Linked DNA regions of Homo sapiens: region 1 is linked to region 2. Evidence: fine-mapped expression QTL. Tissue or cell type: esophagus muscle. Region 2 holds a variant in brackets; the other region holds the start of a gene. All regions are shown on one strand. Distances are between the middles of the regions.

Region 1 (2,689 bases), 150 kb before region 2:
TTTTTAACCAAGGTATTTTAAAAACCAACGTTAAGTAAAATTCAGTGAGGAAATAAACACTGATGTAGGCTTATATATTCATTTAAAAATTTTTACTGACAAAGTCTGGCTATTTGCCAGTTTCAGATATATTTACATAAAATAAAAAAGACAGTCAATATATGCCTGTCTTGCCAGGACAATAGAGTTGATTTATTTATTATACAATTGTTTGAATCCCTTCTATGAGTCTACTAACACTTGGAAGATCTTTCTGTGATGATGAGAGCTCAGCCAAGCCAGAATAAAAATATTCACTGCAAGTGTATTATGACTTGAAATAATACCACCACCTTACATTCATGTTTCATTTTTTAAAAGTATTTCATCTTTCGTCCTTGTATCTCTCAGAAGGTAACGCCTGTCCCATTTTCAGATGAGGAAACCGTGCCCAAAGGAATACATGCGACTTTTCCAGGGTATTTACTGAATCAGTACTGAATTAAAATTTTTTTCTATTGGATCACTGCTTACTCTTGGTTCAGTGGGAGGTATCTTTTTTTTTTTCCAAATCAGGAATGATCTGAGTATTTGCCAGCACCCAAATAATCCCAACAGACTACAATTTTTTTGAGTAACTGATACTATATTTAAAAGAAATTATGGCCTATTTTATTGTCATCAAACTTCTGAACAAACCTCTTAATAATTACTAAATGTCCTACAAAAATTATGTTGTATACATGGGAGTCAAATGGATGACATGGATGCGGAAAGCAGAAAGAGACTGGAAATCAACATCTCAATTCAGCCTTCCAAAAAGTAGAATCCACCACTTCTTTCCCCTTCATCATTTCAAAAGCCCATGGCAATGAACCCCAAACTGAGGCCTGAGGGCGGATGCACCAGACTTTATTCCCAGGCTCTCATGGGATTTATCTATTATGGGAAAATGGAGAGTCTGGGAAGAGGCGAAAAAAAAAACAAAAGACGCGGTTTACCTTGCCCTACCTCCCTCTCCCCCTGGAATAAGGTGATGTAGCGAAGAAACCATCTTTCAATGCTGTCAGGGCTCCGCCGAGTCAGGTCAAAGGACTTTGAAACCCCCCCAGAGCTCTCCTTTTTTCTCCACTTCACCTTTTCCCTCTCCTTTCGGTGACTTCTCTCCCTGCTTCCCATCCCGTCTGCTAAACTAGCGTTGCCCAGTGACATCTCACAGCCAACCCAAGAACATCTTCAGGGCCCTGGCAAGGAGGGTAGGACAGAGCCTTGGGGAGTCGTCACCTTTTGAGGTATCTGGCGTCCTCCCCTTGCATGGCGGCAGCGGCAGCGGCGTGGAGAGGATGGGGTATCTTGAGAGGCAGGCGCGGTTATTTCCGGGGACGGTGGCCAAAGTACCCTCACACCCAGAGGCGATGACAGTCCTGAGGCCTGCAAGGCGGGGCAGCAGCGGCGCTGTGGTTACCACGGTGAAGCCTCCAGCTCCTCCCACAGCTTCTGTGCCCCAAAACACTGGAGCGGCCCAGACCCGCCCAGAGTCGCCTAAGCCGGGCCGTCACGACGCATGCGCTTGCTCTGCACCTCTTGTATGCGCAGGCTCAGTCTGAGGCGGTGGCCTCAGAGTTTGACGCACCGGGGAGCCGAGCAGGGAAGTTTTGGTGCAGTTTTGAGCGTCCGTGTATAAGGAGTGGCTCCGTAGTCACCGCCCCCTTGAGGATGGGAATAGAAAGGGCTGTCAGGTCAGCTTGAAAGGAGAGAGGGGAATCCGATAACCTTTTAGTTAGCGAATGCTATACAGCAGTCCAGCTAATAAGGGAGGTTTCTATTTGGGGGCCTGAATGGCCCTGATTGCACTTACAAGCTCTAACTTATGGAGATAATCTGACCGTTGTACAAAATGGATATAACTTTGAAGGCGGCAAGTCTGTCACTTTGATGTCTTAAATCTAGAATACACCTCCCCCAACCAAAACAAACAAACAAACAAACAAACAACAGCAACAAAAAACAGTTCCTGAAATTCCAACTCCACCAATTATCCTGAACTCAAGGTATGTTTAGAATTGCTTCTTCTGAGGCAGGCAATTGTTAGCAGTGCAGGGCATAGGAAAGAAGGGTTCTTTTTTAACTGCATGTTCTCTGGTTTAAGATCTATTCCCATGGGTTCAGCTATTATGTCTATGCAAATGATATAGGTTCATTTATTTGGTAAATGTGAATTGAGGGCTGGCTGTGTGCCAAACACCAAACCAGGCTCTAGGGATGCAAAGAAAGCACCTCTACTCCCCCTGCTCACCTATAATCTTGTCACTTATTCACTGTCTTCTAGTCCTGTTTTCCCAGTTGCTTTGAGACGTGCACGTAGTTGCTCTGCTGCTTTTTTCAAATGTAGTACATTGATGCAATTATTGATTATCCGTTATGTGTAAAACACCATGTTAAGGCACTGCATGGTATATTAAATATAGAAATACAGTCCTTACCCAACAAAATATATTTTTATCTTCCCACCCATTCACACCAGCTACACTATTTCTGTAGATGTTATAGTCATTCTTTCATTCTGAAAGGGAAGAAAATTTGCAGCTAATTTTGACTCCTTCCTCTGTATCATGCCCTCTTACTAAAGTGTTACAAAATTCTATCTTTTCTTCCTTCAAGATATTCAGGTAGTCCAGTTTTTTTCTACATTCTTACTTCTACCAATAGT
Region 2 (2,689 bases):
CCAGGGGATCTTTGCATATGCTATTAACCCTCCCATTAATACTTTCTGGTTAAATCCTTCTCATCGTTCAGGTCTCAGCTCAGGTATAACCACTTCCTGGAAGCCCTCTCTGAACTCAAGTCCCACTATTAGGCTCATCTCTTCATGTACTTTTCCATAGATCTTGTGATGGTTGTGACTATGCATTTGTGTTTGTGCTTATTTAATTATCTTATGCTCCTTCACTAGAGTGTAAATCCATGAGGGCAAGGATGGTGTTTGTTTGGCTTATTTAGCATCTATATAGTGCCTTGACATAGAGACAATCAGTAATATTTGTTGAATGAGTGAGTAAGATTGTGGATTTTTATCATTGAGAAAAAAATTTTAAAATACTTTAAAGTAAAATTTATAGCTGTAAGTTGTGATGCAAAAATATTTTTTCCCAACATATAATATTATTTGGATACTTTGTGTTTAAAGGCTTTTAGTAATTGCTGACATGTCCTAAGATCATAATTTCAGGAAAACAAAGAGATTTGATGTGACAGCTCTTGAAGTGGCAGCGCTTTAGCCAGCTGCAATGGTTTATCTTACTTGGCCTCAGCATTTTACTTTCCCTGATAGTTGATAACCAAATGCAATTTATGAACAATATATTTCTTCCTGAAGAAACTTCTTGTTTGGGAAAAAATACTAGGTATATTAGTCCATTTTCATGCTGCTGATAAAGACATACCCAAGATTGGGTAATTTATAAAGAAAAGAGGTTTAATGGACTCACAGTTCCACGTGGCTGGAGAGGCCTCACAATCATGGTGGAAGGCAAAAGTCACATCTTACATGGTGGCAGGCAAGAGAAAATGAGAGCCAAGAAAAAGGGGAAACCCCTTATAAAACCATCAGATCTTGTGAGACTTATTCACTACCACGAGAACAGTATGGGGGAAACCGTCCCCATGATTCAGTTATCTCCCATCAGGTTCCTTCCACAACACGTGGGAATTATGGGGGATATTATTCAAAATGAGACTTGGGTGGGGACACAGCCAAACCATGTCACTAAAGAAAGAAATATACAAAGAATAAGTTATATTCTGCCTGTAGTTTAGTGTAGTGAGGGTAGAAAGAGGATGGGCTTTGGATGAAATAGATCTGGGATCTTGGTCTCTAGTTAGGGTTGTAAGATATGTAACTCTATCCCTTGCGACCCTTCAGACATGCTTATTCTAAAGAAATATTTATTGTTTGAAATACATATTTAACTAGTTATCTTGTATTTTTATTTGCTAAATCTGGCAACCCTATTTCTAGTTCTCCACTTACCAGAGGTTGGATAGGAATTTTACCTTGAGAGGATTAAGCGGGATACACTATTTGAAATGCTTAGCATAGTGTCAGACACTATGTGCT[G/C]ACACTTAGTGTTCCAAAAATATTTATTCTTTTTTAGATTCCACATGTAAGTGAGCTCATGTAGTATTTGTTTTTCTGTGTCTGGCTTATTTCACTTAGCATAATGTCCTCCAGGTTCATCCATGTTGTCACAAAAAAGTCAAACTCAAAGAAATAGAGAGTAGAATGGTGGTTACCGGAGGCTGGTGGGGATGGGAGGGGTGATGGAGAAAGGGGAGATGTTGGTCAAAGGGTATAAAGTTTGAGTTAGACAGAAGGAATAAGTTTTAGTAACCTATTGTACAGCATGATGACTACAGGTTGCATATTTCAAAACTGCAAAAAGAGTAGATTTTAAATGTTCTTACCACACAAAAATGATAAGTACATGAGGTAATGGATATGCTAAATAGGTAGATTTAGTCATTCTACAATGCATGTATATATGAAAACATCACATTGCACCTCATATTTATATAGTTATTTGTCAACTAAAAATGAAATGAAATAAAAACATTTCAAATGAAAGAATAAAAGGCAGAATTAACAATATTTAAAAATTTTATGCTTATTACTAATATATGTAAAAAATGAAAGTTACTTTTGTTACAATAATGGATCCCATTATTTGTAAACATCGGAGCTACCATTGTGTGCCATATTCTATACCATGTGTTGTTCTAAGAAGCCGTTTACATGTATTATTTTATTCATTTTTTTTCAATGATCCCATAAAACAGATATGACATTATCTCCACCATGCAGATGAGACACAGAGAGTTTGGGTCACGGCCGACATCACACTGCTTACGGTGGTGCAGCCTCAGATCCCACTGTCAGACTCCGGAGTCTGCTTCTTCACCACCAAGCCATAATTTCTGCCTGTGACAAGCAAGGCCGGGTCCATTATGGATGAGCATCCTTTCATATTTGACAGGACCACTTCCCCTTAGCCCCTTTGTAACCCCGGGGCATTGGTGATGCTGTCCACCTGGTAAATCAACCATCCCTTTTGCACCCAGAGCTGATTTTATAGAAATCTAAATACACTTCACTAGGTTTACATGTTAACACTAAAAGAAAAAGAATGTTCTCTGTTTGCCTTTTAGTTGAGGCAACATTTTGGTTTTATAGGCTTGTTTTAGTAAGTAATTATTCTGGTAATGCCAAGGCCTCCTTTATTGAGTCATAAATGCATCCTGGACAACTCAAAATAACAAGCAGGCCTTTTCCTTTGGGCCTAGCAGGCACACACTGTTTAGCTAGATGTGAGTTGGCTTGCCTGCCTCTGCAGGTTTCTCTTTCTCTCTGGAAAGCT

The links. PIP is the estimated chance that this variant, and not a neighbour inherited with it, causes the effect.
Region 1: it holds the start of KIFAP3, and the variant in region 2 is fine-mapped to the expression of KIFAP3 in esophagus muscle (GTEx, PIP above 0.99).

What each region holds. Positions count from the first base shown.
Region 1 is chr1:170,073,173-170,075,861 of GRCh38, forward strand. It overlaps KIFAP3 (kinesin associated protein 3), which reads right to left and starts at 1,523. Exons shown (of 20, transcript NM_014970.4): 1 at 1,264-1,523. The coding sequence starts at 1,295. RefSeq lists enhancers at 1,332-1,391, 1,452-1,751.
Region 2 is chr1:170,223,292-170,225,980 of GRCh38, forward strand. All of the region lies in intron 1 of LINC01681 (long intergenic non-protein coding RNA 1681), which reads left to right. Among named protein-coding and RNA genes, the nearest start is that of LINC01681, 50 kb to the left of the region's middle. The variant G/C (reference allele first, on the strand shown) is at 1,393.